Regions from separate parts of the Homo sapiens genome. Here region 1 is linked to region 2. The links come from fine-mapping of genetic effects on gene expression. Tissue or cell type: whole blood. Region 2 holds a variant in brackets; the other region holds the start of a gene. All regions are shown on one strand. Distances are from middle to middle.

Region 1 (8,161 bases), 48 kb after region 2:
AGCCTGGGCGACAAGAGTGAAACTTTGTCTCAAAAAAACAAAGGTAATTGAGGATAAGTAAACTACCCAAAAAGCATGATGCATTCAAGTTCCTCTTTTTCATAGCTGCTGATAATAGGTTCCTTAAAATCAGATAACTGTAAGGCTTGACTATTAAACGAATAGTGGAAACCCTTCACAAGGGGAAATATTCCTTTCAACTTTGTATTTTCTTCATATTCTGCCCTTCTTAAACTTGCTGAGTCTGATTTGCTCTTTCAGTCACTAAGACTGCAAGCCTGTATGGTGCCTTGTTATAAATGAGAAGGTCCCCATCTGGGCTGAGGCAGCCCTGCAGGCACATGCCTCTCTGTGTGAAGAGAAAGGCTACCCTTCCTCTGAGCAGAGACAATGCCACACCAGCCCACACCAGCCCCTCTTGCTCCCTTAGCCAGGCATGTTTGTGCAGTGCACACACTGCATAACCTGGTGTCTTATTTCCGGTGCCAAAAAACTTGGCCTTCAGAACGATACACTAACACCTCCCAATGCCAGGCACTTGGCCAGGCACTGGAGATAAAAAGAGGAGTAAGAAAACATCTACCTTTGGCAGTCTGGGAAGAGGGCCATATAAGCAGATCACCACAGTAAGACCTGGCAAAGTGATCAAACATGAACACAAATTGTTATAGGATCAAAACTGGGGGAACAACTCTTTTTTTCTTGGATGGGGTTATGGTCAAGGAAAATTCAGGAAGGAAGAGGTGTTTAATTAGGTGTTTGGGGGATGAGTAGAGGTTCATGAAAGGGAAAAAGGGCATTAGAACTTTTGTGGTGACAAGGACAAACTTAGAGCTCTCCTCCTATAACCCCAAATCTCAGGAAAGCCTTGGGTTGCGGCTTACTTTGATTTAGGTCTTGAATCACACCATTTTTGTTGGGTTTGTCTTTCTACATGTCTTTTTGCCTTTGAAGTGATCCAGACAAGCTTAGCAGTGGGGTTTGTAAAAACAGTGTAATAAACATTGCCCATTTGCCAGGACTGTCCTCTGTGTAGCTCTCTTGGGAGTCTGTAGAGGCCGTAGGTGGCTGGTTAAAGGCTGGGGATTTGGGATTATCACCAAATGGCCTCCTTGAAGATACAGCACACAAGGACAATCCAGAAAGAGGGAACAGCATAATCCCACAATATTTTGTTTGCCAAATGGAAATCTCTTTAGTGACAAACATTTAACTTAGCACCAGGTGTGACCTTCAGTTATGCAATAGAATTGTGGATCAGCTAGGATGAAATTTCTTATTTCCCTAGAAGAATGTTTTGTCCAGAAACACTATCCCAAGGCAACAGACTATATTTCCAACTCTGTGAGCCTTTTCCCTTCTTGGCACGTGCTACTGGTTGCTAGACGAATCAGGAGGCAGTATGTGCATAGAACAGCTCCTCACAAGTCACTGTCATTCTAAGAAAAAAACTCAGTATGTGTCCTTTTGGCAGGAAGTCAGAAACATGTTCTCTGGACCATTAAGGGACAGCATCTTTTGTTATAAATGTGTTATATTTGTTCTTTGACCTTTATCTATATCCTTTATAATAAACCAGTAAATATATATAAGTGTTTCCCTGATATCTGGGAGCCATCATAGCAAATTATCAAACCTGAGGAGGAAGGTCCTGAAAATCCTTGATTTGTAGCCAAGTCAAACAAAAGCATGGGTAACCTAAGGACTCACTAATTGCTACTGGTGTCCAAAGTAGGGGGCAGCCTTGTGAGACTGAACTCTGAACCTGTGGATTCTGTCCTAACTGTGTAGTCCTGAAAATGCTTGGTGTGGAAGATCTATACATGTAGTGTCAGAAGGGTTGCATAAGTATAGAAAAATTGTTTTTCCTTTTTAGTAGTGGTTCATCTAAAAAGTATTTAATTGTGGAAAATATAAGGATTGAATAAGGGCATAGTTAATGTGTTATATCTGTTGATAAGATGAACTATAATGCTGTAATTAAAAATGTTTATGAAGGTTCAATATAATAAAAATACCAGTTTTCCATACATTAGGTATAAATTTAACATAGCTGTAATGAAAATACCTTCAGAATTATTTTAATCGAATGGCTGATCCTAAAAGCCAAATGGGAAAATAAACAAGAATGGCCAGGAAGACCGGGGAAGAGAAAAAGAGTAATGAAGAAGGACTAGCCCTACTAGATATCTATGAAAACATATTTTAAAGACGCAATAGTTAAAAGAGTTTACTACTAGAACATTAATAGACAAATGGAACACTATAGACACAAAGTATATGCATGAGTTTATTCTGTGAAAAAGGAAGCATCTCAAATCAAAGGAGGAAAAGGTGGACTACTGAATAAATGATAGTAAGACAACTACTAGATATAAAGAAAAAAGTTAGATTCATACCTTCCTAATCTTTACCCCTCCAAAAAAAAAAAAAAGAAATGTAAAAAAGTGAAATCTACAAGTAGTACGAGAGAAACCAGAAGGACTAGAAGAAAGCAAGGGATTCTTTTAACACATTTAAAATGGGGAAGGCCTTTTTAAAGACTGCAAAATCCAGAAGCCATAAAAGTAAATATTGTAAATTTGACTAGATAAAAATATATTGCAAAATTTCTGCATGGCAAAGATTCCACAAGCAAAGACAAAACTAAAACCTAACTGAGGAAAATAATAATGATCTATATTACAGACAAAGGACTAATCCCCCTCACGTGTCATGGCAGCTAGCTTCCCACAGAGTAAGTGATGAGAGAGAGAGAGAGAGCACCCAAGATGAAATATGGAAGGTGCAGACCTTTTATAACCTAATCGCAGGAGTGACATTGGGTTTTTCTTTCGAATTTTTCTGATTTGTTTCCCTGTGGTGTCGATTTATCTTGTTTCTTGTCTTTTTCTTATAAACTTTAAAATTAGATTTAGAAGCTTAATTAACTTTATGTTAAGCCTTTTTGCCAAGAATATTTCATATGTAGTATATTGAATTTTATGTTTCCTTTTATTAGTGAAGCAACTTTCCCAGAAGCACCACAGTGGACTTGTTCTCAAGTCTAATTGGCCAGATCAGGGAAATATGCACTGTCCTGGACCAGTCACTGGTGATGAAAGGGTAACACCCACCACCGGGGTTCTGCTACTACACAGGATGAAGAAAGGTAATTTCAGAGAGTAAAAACCAAAGTTGCATGAATTGGTTAGAGTTCTTAGGGCCAGAGGACAAGGTGCTTTACCTTGGGTTTAAACAAAAACATTAACTTGGAGTCACAAAGGCAAGTGGCCAGAGTTGAGGCAGAAAGGTAAATTGAGGCCACATCATGGACGGACTGCATATAACACACAGTAAATGCTGTCAAGTAGGGAAACGCCATGATCAGATGGACATTTTAGAAAGAACCAGTCTGGCCATAGCAAGAAAAGTCTAGGCAAATCTGGAGGCAAGAGGGATTCAAGTGTAGGCAGCTGCTGGCTGGGATCAGCTAGTTGGTAGCAGCTAGACCCACCTCTAATATTTGAGGGCCCTGAAAGTAAGAGTACCAAAGGAAGCCAACATACCATGTGAACAAATATTCAAAGTTAATCCCAGCACTATGGGAGACTGAGGTGGGCGGATCATGAGGTCAGATCGAGACCATCCTGGCCAACATGGTGAAACCTCATCTCTACTAAAAAGACAAAAATTAGCTGGACGTGGTGGCGTGCACCTGTAGTCCCAGCTACTCGGGAGGCTGAGGCGGGAGAATCGCTTGAACCCGGGAGGCGGAGGTTGCAGTGAGCCAAGATCAAGCCACAGCACTCCAGCCTGGCAACAGAGTGAGACTCTGTCTCAAAAAAAAAAAAAAAAGTTATAAATCAAGTTAGTAAACTGTTAAAAGCTCTGTCTTCCTGCCTTGATAAATACATCTTCCTAAGGACCTGAAAGGTCAGGTTTACATTGAAAATTTTGACTCCTTGGAGTTCCATGCTGGACCTTGGAGGCCCAGACAAGCAGGCTCTGGCCTATGGCCGTCTTCACTTCCTTTCCCTGTCCAAATAAGATTGTGGAATAACACAGATATTTTGAATGTTTGGATCTTACCCGACTACTTACTATTTATGTGAACTGAGGCACTTCAGCTTCTACAATTTTCAAGTGACAGCCATTGGGGTAAAGCAGGAAACAAAATAATGGCACTGCCCGTATGGAACCCAGAGGATACTGGGAGAAAAAAGTCAGCAAGCAGGTTAGCTATAGGTAGTGGTTGATAATGGCCTACTGTGTGGCTTCTCTGAGAGATGTGTGTGCTTTTCTGCTGGAGGTGTTAGGTGGCCAGTGGTTCCCAAACAGGGCGACATTTCCAGAGGCCTTTGGTGGTGTGTGGGCGTTTGGTGGTCACCAAGACTGGGCATTCACCTATTGCAAACTTCCAGCAACGTGCGGGACAGCGCTATTGCGCCCAAAGTGCCAAGGCAGCCCCTGTTGAGAAACAGTGCAAGGTGTTCTGTTCTCATGGTGGATTTGGGGTATAGGGGCGGCGGGGCGTGATTTTGGCAGCTACTTCCTTCACCAGCAGCACCCATCACTTCTTGTAGGTGCTCTGAGGTCGCCTGTGGATGCACGTGGGGGAAGGGGAAGAGCCCAGGAGGGGTCGGACGGACTTGGGCGGGTCTTTCCTGGAACGAAGGCCAAAGAGTCGCGGCGGCGGCCCAGATGCAGAGGACCACAGCGACACCTGGCTCTTCTTTGAGCGGCGTCCAGAGGCTGCCTTCCCGCGACTCAAAGGAGCATAGGGGAACCTGCAGGGGCGTGGCCGGGGCGTAGCTGCGCGCCGACGGCGGGGGGTCGAAGGGCACGCAGTGCCGGCGTCATGGCGGCCTCCGCGCACGGCTCTGTCTGGGGGCCGTTGCGGCTTGGCATCCCCGGCCTGTGCTGCCGCCGGCCGCCTCTGGGTCTGTACGCGCGCATGCGGCGGCTGCCCGGGCCGGAGGTGTCTGGGCGGAGCGTGGCTGCGGCCAGCGGACCGGGCGCCTGGGGCACTGACCACTACTGCCTGGAGCTGCTGCGGTGAGCGAGCACGACCTTCCCTGGCGCGGCGGGAAGCGGGGTCCCGGGGTGGGAGCGGCTGCGCCTCGCGTCTGGCCTGACGTTTGAGCGAGCGGACCGGCGCCTTCCTCGTGCCCCTCTGGGTGTGCGTTCTAGTGGGCGTCGGGTGCGGGTGTGCGGAGGCAGCGGGCCCACAGGAACATTCACATGGGTCACAAAATTATGGCAAAATTCCTTCGACTGCCCACGCTTGTCGCCTTATCTGAACCTTAATTTTAGCCGAATTCAGCGTTTTTGCATGAATAACCTTTGTTATTCACAGAACGTCTATTAGTTTTAACCACAACGGTAGCCAACTTTGAGTTCTTTCTGTGTGCCTGGCATTATGCAAAGCAGATTACGAGTAATTAGTCTTCATTACAAGTTGCGACGGACAAATGTAGACCTATCATTTAAGGTTGTGAGTTATAAAGCATTTAGAACAATTCCTGGCATATAGTAAGGGCACAGTGAGTGGAAGTCATTATTATCTCATTTAACAGACAAGGAAACTGGGTTTTATAGTGATTAGAGAATTTGCCACAGGTTCACAAGAATAGCCTCATAAAGTCAGAGCCCTGAAGTGTTTTGTTTGTCGGGCGTAGTGCTGGGAAGGCCTGGCACTTGGGTGTCGCTCCTTAATCATTTGTGGAGGTGGGTTGGATCAATCAGGTCACCTGGTTCATGCGGCAGGGACCCCTGGGAATCCAGGCCTGACTGCTGAGACCAGTGGCTTAGCCCCTCTGCCCTTCTGCTATGTCTCATTTGAAAGACTGGGGTAAGGTCTTGAAGTACTTGGTCTCAAGGACTTACCAAAAGTACTTGAATGACTAAACTACCTTGAAGTTGATCATGCAAGTAAAACCGTTTTTTTTTTAATTCCATTTTAGAGAAAAGCAGCATAACACAACAAAATGCATGCATTTCAGTGTTTTGTTTATAATCCCTTTTAAAAATTGTGGGCCGGCCGCGGTGGCTACACGCCTGTAATCTCCGCACTTTAGGAGGCTGAGACCGGTGGGTTGTTTGAGCCCAGGTGTCTGAGACCAGTCTGGCCAACATGGCGAAACCCCATCCCTACAAAAAAATAAAAAATTAGTTGGGCGTTGTGTCCCGCGCTTGTGGTCCCGGCTGCTCCAGAGGCTGACGTGGGAGGATCGCTTCAGCCTGGGAGGTGGAGGTTGCAGTGAACCAAGATCGCTCCACTGCACTCTAGCCTGGGCGACAGTCTCAAAAACAACAAAAACAAAAATTATTTATTTCCTACCTTATTTGTTGATTACTTGTAAGAGAAACAAGATAGCAGTAATGGAAATCAGGCATTAAGAATTGTAAAAGCCAAAAAAAATTGTAAAAGCCAAAATTGTGAAAAGATTGCATTATTTTTATATATTTAAGTTGTTATATTTTGATGATAAAAACTTTAAGTTGCCAGAGTATACCACCCAATAGCCGCTAGTGTCATAACTTTGCAGAGATAATCACTTTTAAAAATTTCTTATCTATTTTTCCAGGGATAGTCTGTGGATTTACAAATATTTAAGGCTGGAGGAATGGCTTACACCTGTAATCTCAGCATTTTGGGAAGCCTAGGCAGAAGGGTTGCTTGATGCCAGGAGTTTGAGACCAGCCTGGGCAACATAGCGGGATGCTGTTGCTACAAAAAATAAAAAAATTAGCTGGGCTTGGTGGCACAGCCTGTGGTCCCAGCTACTGCGAGGCTGAGGCGGGAGGATCACTTCACTCCAGGAGGCTGAGGCTGCTATGAGCCGAGTTTGCTCCATTGCACTCCAGCTGGGGCAACAGAGCAAGACCCTGTTTCAAAACAAACAAACAAAAATATTTAAGTACATTATTAGTTATTTTTTACTTCAGTCACATGCTAGTTTTTCTCAAGTATATATACTGTATTTACAAATGGTCAGTTACTTAAACTGTCCATGTTATTTGTGTGGAATGGGGGCTCTTGACTCTAGTGACTTATTTCAAATGCTGAATTTTGCAGGCAGACCTGATTTGAGAGTATTAATCCCAGCTCTATCACTTGGGAAGGTTTCTTTAAGATTCCATGTTGGCTGGGCACCATGGCTCACACCTGTAACCTTAGCACTTTGGGAGGCTGAGGAGGGAGGATTGCTTGAGCCTAAGAGTTCCAGACCAGCCTGGGCAACATAGTGGGACCCCTTCTCTACAAAAAATAAATAAAATTAGCTGGGCATGGTGGTAAGCACCTGTAGTCCCAGCTACTCTGGAGGCTGAGAGAGGAGGATCACTTGAACATGGGAGGTTGAGGCTGCAGTGAGCCAAGATCTTGCCACTGCACTCCAGCCTGGGTGACAAAATGAGACCCTGTCTCAAAAAAAAAAAAAAAAAAAGATTCGGTTTTTTCCTCATTTGTAAATGTTTACTCTTACCTTATAGCCTGGTGTTGTGAGGATTAAATGTGATGATATAGTAAAAAATGCTTAGCAGAGTTCAGACACATGACAAATATAAGTTTAAAAAATAAAAATAAACTTGAAATAGAATTTCTGGCTTCTAATTGTCCATCAATAATCTCTGCAAGATTTGGCCTCTGAAATTATGCAGGGTTGTTTTGGACGTGCATTTTATGCAAGGCCTCTAAATAGCAGGAAAAATAGCAGGCCATAACTTCGGGTTCACCATCCTCGGCTCTCCTAGCAATTTAGGTTTTTGGGAAAATCTCAAACCTAATTTACATAGGCTTCTCCGACTTTGGCTTTGAGGAGGATAAACACAGAGCCTCAGGCTGTAGTGAGAAGGTGAGGAGGTACTACTGGTGGTGTTGGAGTGCACTAATGTTCTTTACTTTGCTGCAATCTCACCAGGGAATCACTTCCTTTGTGCCTCAGTGGCACAGGTCCATGGTACTAACACACAACAATCCTAATACCCCGTGTGCTTGTTTCTTATATGTCTGTCTCTCTCAACTCAATCGAAGTCAGTACCCATCTTCAGTGTCTGGAACAGTGCCTGGCACATAGTAGGCACTGCATAGATGTTAGAATGAATGAGAGGTTATTTGCCCTATTGCCATATAAAGCTGTTATATATACATCCGTAATATGGCATTTCTCATTATCTG
Region 2 (8,200 bases):
AGAGCGGAAAAAAAAAAAACTCCGTCTCAAAAAAAATTCTGACTCATCTGCAAATTGAAGAATGATGTAGTTGGTAGCTGGAAATCAACTAGCTGCATTTTAAAATTTTCTGGCAGTGTTACCTCCATCTTGCTTCCTTTACCTATCAAACTGTAGTTATTTAATAAATGCTAAATCAGAAAAACAAAGATTCTGATAGTGTCAGAGAGAAAGCTCTCCTAGAAAGCTACTTTCTGAAAAGTCCAACCAGGTTATTCTTTAACTGTTTTGGTCCATGGAGTAGCAAGGCAGATTTAGAGAGCAAAGAATAGATACAACATGATTTTTTTTTTCTTTCTTGAGACTGAGTCTCGCTCCATTGCAAAGGCTGGATTGCAGTGGCTCGATCTTGGCTCACTGCAACCTCTGCCTCCCGGGTTCAAGCAGTTCTCCTGCTTCAGCCTGCCAAGTAGCTGGGATTACAGGCGTGCGCCACACCAGGCTAATTTTTGTATTTTTAGTAGATATGGGGTTTCGCCATGTTGGTCAGGCTGGTCTCTAACTCCTGAACTCAAGTGATCTGCCCGCCTCAACCTCCCAAAGTGCTGGGATTACAGGCCTGAGCCACCACACCCAGCCACAATGTGATCTTTAAAATAGATCAAAGACCAACCTAAAGGAAAATGAGTTTTTGATCATAAAATTAAGTACAATTTAAAAATTCAGTTCTCCTATAATCTCAGCACTTTGGGAGGACAACGTGGGAGGATTGTGTGAGCTCAGGAGTTTAGGACCAGCCTGGGCAACGTAGCAAGACCCTGTCTCTACTGAAACTTAAAAAAAAAAAAAGATCATCCAGGCATGGTGGTGCATGCCTGTAGTCCCAGCTACTCGGGAGACTGAGGTGGGAGGCTTGCTTAAGCCCAGCAGTCGAGGCTGCAGTGAGCCATGATTGTGCCACTGCATGCAGCCTGGACGACAGAGCAAGACACTGTCTCAAAAATAAATAATAAATAAATATTCAATTCTTAGCCAGGTATGGTGCCTCACATCTGTAATCTCAGCACTTTGGGAGGCCAAGCTGGGAGGATTGCTTGAGCCCAGGAGTTCGAGGCTCCAGTAAGCTATGATAGCTTCACTTCACTACAGCCTGGGTGACAGAACAAGACTCTGTCTCTAACTAGCTAAATTAATAAATACTCATTTCTTAAGAGAAACCCTTAATAATTACCATGTGATTAGGACTGAAATGTCTGAAGGCAAGCTATCTGGGTTCAAATCCTGGCTCTGCCACTCCCTAGCTGTGTGACCTTAAGCAAGCTACTTAATTTCACTGTGTCTCAGTATTTTTTCCTTATCTGTAAAATGGAGATGATAGGACCTCCAGCCTGGGTGACAGAGTGAGATTCTGTCTCAAAAAATAAAATAAAATAAAATGAAAGAGACACCAGAGAGCTCCCTCATGCCTTCTCCCCCATGAGGACATAGTGAGAAGATGCCCAACTATGAATCAGAAAGTGACCTTTGGGCTGGGTGCGGTGGCTCACGCCTGTAATCCCAGCACTTTGGGAGGCTAAGGCGGGCAGATCACGAGGTCAGGAGATCGAGACCATCCTAGCTAACACAGTGAAACCCTGTCTCTACTAAACATACAAAAAATTAGCCAGGTGTGGTGGCGGGCACCTTTAGTCCCAGCTACTCGGGAGGCTGAGGCAGGAGAATTGCTTGAACCTGGGAGGTGGAGGTTGCAGTGAGCTAAGATCGCACCACTGCACTCCAGCCTGGGCGACAAGAGTGAGACTCTGTCTCAAAAAAAAAAAAAAAAGAAAGTGACCTTTGGCCAGACGTGGTGGCTCACACCTGCAAACCCAGTGCTTTGGGAGGCCGAGGTGGAAGGATTACTTGAGGCCCAGAGTTCAGGACCAGCCTGGGCAACACAGCAAGACCCCTGTCTCTAAAAAAAAAAAAAAAAAGGCCCTCCCCAGACATGGAATCTTTGATCTTGGACTTCCCACCCTCCAGAACTGTGAGAAATAAGTTTCTGCTGTTTATAAACCACTCAGTCTATGGTATTTTCATTATAGCAGCCTGAACCAACTAAGATAAGGGTGTTCATGAAAGTGAGGAAAACAAATAATGTCTTTATGGGAACTCCAGAAAGCCACTCAGCCAGTCCTCAAGGTTAGAGCAGGAACATCATACCACCCTGCACTGTGGCCATTAGTCAGGAACTGGAAGGTCATTCAGGGCACTGACCAGCTCTTGTGGCCATACCATCTCCTCATCCCTTTGCAGCAGGTGTCTACTTAGAGCCAAATCTGTTTTTTTTTTAAATTATCTTTATTATAAGGAAAAAAAAAAACCACAGTAAAACAGACCTGGTAGGTGGTAGGGGTGGAAGACACGGAAAAATATAATGACCAGACATGGCTTCCTGCGAGGGAGGACAGTGAGTTGGCCTTTACCTCACCTACTTTCCTGATTCAAAGAAACTTGCCCCCAGCAAGACTGGGCCCAGGAGCTCCATTTTCCAATCTCTTCTCTTCCTGGGCATTTAAGAAGGGGTATATTGTTCTCCAGCTTTCAAGATATTGCAGACAGTATGGAGAAGAAGGGAAGGATATTATAGCCGTTTGTTTCAATGCCTTCCCCAGCTCAAGCCCTCAGGATTTGTTGATGCTGCAGATAGGAACCCCATGGAATTGGGGCAGCTTAAGCAGCAATATGCTGAGCGGTGAGGCTGTGTTGATGAAGAAGGAAGCAGCATCATACCTGGCATGGAAGCTGTCAGGAGGTAGAATGCCATAGGAGAGATGCTAAGGAACTTGTGGGCAGAGGTACCTGGAGCCTGTAGTCCATCCGCTCCCAGTGTATCAGTAGCCAAGCCTTTCCTTGTTAAGGGGGTCTCAAAGGACGTCCCTTTCCCCGTATGCAGGAAGTACATAGCCTGCCAGCTTCAGAAGCCTGTCCAGCTAGAGGCGTGGTGCTCACTTCCACACCTGTAGATGTTTGTCCAAGGGTCAACCTGAGATTCAAACCCAGGGCCTTCTGGCCCAAAACAAGTAAGCAAGTAGCAGCCCAGGAAGTCAAACCAAGATCTGCGAGGTTCCAAAACACCAGCTCCTTGCTTCTTCCTTTCTCAGCCCACCAACATAACCACTTGGAGGAGCCTGAACCAAGTCATGTGTTTGCCAGTTCCCACTGTCTCATTCCAATGCTGAGTTGCCCCTGGGATAGAGCAAGTCTTCCTCCACCCCCTGTAACTGTTAGGGCCAGGTAGAGACAGAGGGCAGGTGTGGGTGGGTTGGAGGATCCCCTTTCATTCACATTCAGCAGGTGGCTTCCTTGAGCTGATTTTTCCCTTTAAAGCTGTCCTAATTGCTATTTTAATCAGATTTTATATTCCTATAAATCTAAGGTGGAGGTTGGGGAGAAAAGAGATAATGGTATGGTGAGATGTCTACTGAACTGCTCCTGCCAAGGCCCCTCCCCATGTACTCTCAACGAAAGTTGCAGGTGAGTCTCCCATGCTGGGAGTCGGAATCCAGCAGAGCCTCAGGCAGCGGGGAGCTATAGCAGTTAGAAAGAGCACATTCGCAGAAACCCTGTGACCTGCAGCTGCTGGCCTCCTGGAAGCTTCCTTTGTTGCTCTTGGTTGGAAGACTGTTGTTATGATGCTCTTTTAACTACATTCACAGGGTCTAGGATTGGGTTAGAGAAAGGGTGAGAGGACAGGTGGGAGGAAAGAGGCTGAATGAGTGCTAGGAAGTGAGGCATCCGAAGGGACTGCCTTCATGGTCGTGTCTAGCCTGATATTCACAGCATTATTGATTTTTTTTCTTCCAAAAATTACATGTATTTTATTTTCAGCATCTTTTGCTAATTCTTTCTAATTATAATGTGCTGTTATTTTACAGCCACCCATTCTCATTTTGTGGATATAATTCCCTGCTTTAGTTTTCTGAGCACAAGAAATCAACTTTGGCTGCACATTGGAATATCTGAGAAGCTTAAAAATACTGATGTTTGGACCAGGTGCAGTGGCTCACGCCTGTAATCCCAGCACTTTGGGAGGCAGAGGCAGGTGGATCACGAGGTCAGGAGATCGAGACCACGGTGAAACCCTGTCTCCACTAAAAATACAAAAAATTAGCCGGGCGTGGTGGCGGGCGCCTGTAGTCCCAGCTACTCAGAGAGGCTGAGGCAGGAGAAAGGCATGAACCCGGGAGGTGGAGCTTGCAGTGAGCCGAGAT[C/T]GTGCCACTGCACTCCAGCCTGGGTGACAGAGACTGTGTCTCAAAAAAAAAAAAAAAATACTGATGTTTGGGCCGGGTGGTGGTGGCTCACGCCTGTAATCCCGGCACTTTGGGAGGCAGAGGCAGGCGGATCACGAGGTCAGGAGGTTGAGACCATCCTAGCCAACGTGGTGAAACCCCGTCTCTACTAAAAATACAAAAATTAGCTGGGTGTGGTGGCGCATCCCTGTAATCCCAGCTACTTGGGTGGCTGAGTTACGAGAATCACTTGAACCAGGAGGTGGAGGTTGCAGTGAGCCAAGATCCCGCCACTGCACTCCAGCCTGGTGACAGAGCAACACTCCATCTCAAAAAAAAAAAAAAAAAAAAAAATTAGCTGGGTGCGGTGGTAGGTGCCTGTGGTCCCAGCTACTTGGGAGGCTGAGACAGGAGAACTGCTTGAACCTGGGAGGTGGAGGTTGCAGTGAGCCAAGATCACACCACTGCACTCCAACTTGGGCAACAGAGCAAGACTTCATCTAAAAAAAAAAAAATACTGATGTTTGGAGAATGATGGTCATCAGAGGTTGGGGAGAAGGAAAAGGGAAGTTGTTGTTTATGTTGTTTAATGGGTATAGAGTTTCAGATTTGCAAGGTGAAGAAGTTCTGGAGATCTGTTTCACAACAATGCGAATGTACTTAATATTACTGAACCATACAATTAAAAATGGTTCAGAGGCCAGGTACAGTGGCTCAGGCCTGTAATCTCAGCACTTTGGGAAGCCCAGTCAGGCGGATCGCTTGAGTCCAAGAGTTTGAGATCAGCCTAGGAAACATGGCGAAACTCCATCTCTACAAAAAATACAAAAATTAGCCAAGCGTGGTGGCACACACCTGTGGTCCCACCTAGGTGAGAGGATCACCTAAACTCAGGGAGGTCAAGGCTGCAGTGAGCCATGATTGCACCACTGCACTCTAGCCTGGGTGACAGAGTGAGACCCTGACTCAGAAAAAAAAAAAAAAAAAAAAAGGTTAAGATGGTAAATTTTATGTTATGCTTTTCTACTACAATAAAAAGTACATAAAAATATTGATATGGGCCGGGTGCAGTGGCTCATGCCTGTAATCCCAGTGCTTTGGGAGGCCAAGGTGGAAGGATCACTTGAGGCCAGAAGTACAAGACCAGCCTGGACAACAAAAAGAGAGCCTATCCTTACAAAAAATTTTTTTTAATTAGCTGGGTGTGGTGGCACACAACTGTAGCCCTAGTACTCATAGTACTCAGGTGACCTGAGGTGGGAGGATCACTTGAGCCTGGGACATTGAGGCTGCTGTGAGCCATGATCACACCTCTGCACTCCAGCCTGAGCAAAGAGCAAGACCCTGTCTCTAAAAAAAAAAAAAAAAAAAAATTGACCTGGCTAGAACGAAGCAGGCATAAGAAGGGGCATAAGCACCCTGCTGGGTTCTCTCTCTCTCTCTCTCTCTCCTTGTGCCAGATGTTTTGCTTCCGCTTCTCCTGTCCTTGGACATCAGACTCCAGATTCTTCAGCTCTTGGACTCTGGAACTTACATTAGTGGCCTTCTGTGGGGGTCTCAGGCCTTTGGCTTCAGACTGAGGGCTGCACTGTTGGCTTCCTGCTTTTGAAGCTTTTGAACTTGAAATTCTGACTTAACTGATGAACAGTTAAGTCTAGGGAATATCTGTTCTGGGGAGTAGTGGGCAATGAACCCTGAAAAGCTCTGTGACATTATGATATAATAAAACATATCAGTGGTTTTCCTCCCCAGTCCCTGGCACAGAGCTCCTAAAACCCTTGTAATTTCCTGAATGACAGGGGTGCTAGGTACATCGTTTGTTCTAATACTTGGTCTTGGACTCTGGTTCCTGACAAAGAGCTCCTAAATCCTTTGGAATTTCCCGGGTACTAGAAGAGTCCTTTGTTCTATTAATAATTCGGCAACTCTTGGGGGGCTCCTGGATAGCTTTGGGATGGGAACTGGTCAGCAGAAAGACCAAGCCATGATTAGAAGCTTGGAACATTCAGTCCCATCCCCTATTCTCCAGGAAGGGGAGCAGAGCTGGAGATTGAGTTAATAACCCATCATGCCGATGTGATGAAGCCTCCATAAGACTACAAGGCTCATAGAGCTTCTAGGTTGGTGAACACATCTGCGTGTTAGAAGGATGGCGCACTCCAATTCTTGCCCTCAGGACACTTTTGGACTCACTCTATGTACCTCTTCATCTGGCTGTTCATCTGTATTCTCTATCATATCCTTTATAATAAGCTGGTAAACAGGCCAAGCATGGTGGCTCATGCCTGTAATCCCAACATTTTGGGAGGCCAAGGTGGGAGGATCACTTGAGCCCAGGAGTTTGAGACTAGCTCTGGCAACACAGTGAGACCCCATCTCCATGAAAAATAAAAACTTAGCCAGGCTTGGAGGTGCACGCCTATAGTCCAGGTACTTGGGAGGCTGAGGTGGGAGGATCGCTTGAGCCTGGGAGGTCGAGGCTGCAGTGAACCATAGCCATTCCACTTTGCTGTAACCTGGGAGACAAAGCAAGACCCTGTCTCAAAAAAAGAAAAAAAAAAAGCTGGCAAACATAGGTAAACATAAGTGTTTCCCTGAGTTCTGTGAGCCATCATAGCAAATGGGAACCTCCAATTTGTAGCCAAGTTAGAAAGAAGTGTGGGTAACCTAGGGACTCACTACCTGCAGTTGGCATCTGAAGTTTGGGGGCAGTTTTGTGGGACTGAGCCCTTAACCTGTGGCATCTACAGTAACTCCAGGTAGTTAGTGTCATAATTAAATTGTGGTACACCTAGTTGGTGTCCAAAGAGTTGGAGGATTGTTTGGGGTGTTTGGGGTAGAATAAGCCCTGAGACATTTTGTGTCAGAAGGGTTGAGTGTAGTAGAGCAAAACAGTGTTTGTTTCCTGTTTAAGCTCCCAGGTGATTTTAGCATGCGGCTAAAACTGAGAGCCGTCCTGAGGATCTGAAGTCACTACTTTTCAGATCCTCATCATTCTGGTAATTATTTTTTCTCAGATGCAAATCCCCGCTTTTGTTGAGATTTTCTTTTTGATGGTGTGGGCCATTTTCAGAGGCTGACCAAGCTTACCTTCTGCCACCTGGGCTACACCTCTGCCTACACCCTGGGCTTCAAGTCCCACCTGGAGGTGAGGACCTGGGGCTTCTTGACTTGTGCTTTCCTATCTCCTCACTTCCTTGAGGAATGCTGCCCAGCCTTTAAAGAGAGGGTCCTTCCTTGTTTTCAAAAGTGGCTATATTGTCTTTCACACCCCTCTCTCTTTTCCATCCTTCCTTCTCTCTTTCTTTTTGTATCTTTTAAAAAATCTCTTCCTGGGGTCTTATGAAGGAGATTTCAGCATGAGTTTAGTCCACATTCCTGAAATCTGGGGATTTTACTTTTTAACTTTATATATTTCTGTGTTATTTGAATTATTTTGCCACAAATACATTGTTTTTGTAATATTTTTTCAAGTGTTTTTATAAAAAGAATTTATATTAATAAAGCCTATGTAATAACCTTGAAAATGTTTATGACATAATGCTAAGGGAAAAGGCAGACATATGTGCAGGAGGATCACAACAATGTAAAAAAAGACCATGACAAAAAACGAACTTTATCCATAGAAGACAGGCCGGAATGGGCTGGGCACCATGGCTTACGCCTGTAATCCCAGCACTTTGGGAGGCCGAGGCAGGTGGATCACTTGAGGCCAGTAGTTCAAGACCAGCTTGGCCAACATGGCAAAAACCTCATCTCTACTGAAAATAAAAAAAATCAGCTTGGTGTGGTGGCGCGCACCTGTAATCCCAGCTACTCGGGAGGCTGAAGTAGGAGAATCACTTGAACTAGGAAGGCGGAGGTTACAGTGAGCCGAGATCATGCCACTGCACTGCAGCCTGGTTTACAGAGTGAGACTCTGTCTCAAAGCGAAAAAAAAAACAACAAAA

What was found. PIP is the estimated chance that this variant, and not a neighbour inherited with it, causes the effect.
Region 1: NDUFAF6 starts here. The variant in region 2 is fine-mapped to the expression of NDUFAF6 in whole blood (TOPMed, PIP above 0.99).

What each region holds. Positions count from the first base shown.
Region 1 is chr8:95,020,169-95,028,329 of GRCh38, forward strand. NDUFAF6 (NADH:ubiquinone oxidoreductase complex assembly factor 6) reads left to right here and starts at 4,821. Exons shown (of 9, transcript NM_152416.4): 1 at 4,821-5,037. The coding sequence starts at 4,841. RefSeq lists enhancers at 3,880-4,726, 4,693-4,987 and a silencer at 4,743-5,112.
Region 2 is chr8:94,971,921-94,980,120 of GRCh38, forward strand. It overlaps a transcript of NDUFAF6 not described here. Among named protein-coding and RNA genes, the nearest start is that of TP53INP1, 27 kb to the left of the region's middle. RefSeq lists an enhancer at 3,352-3,915. The variant C/T (reference allele first, on the strand shown) is at 4,233.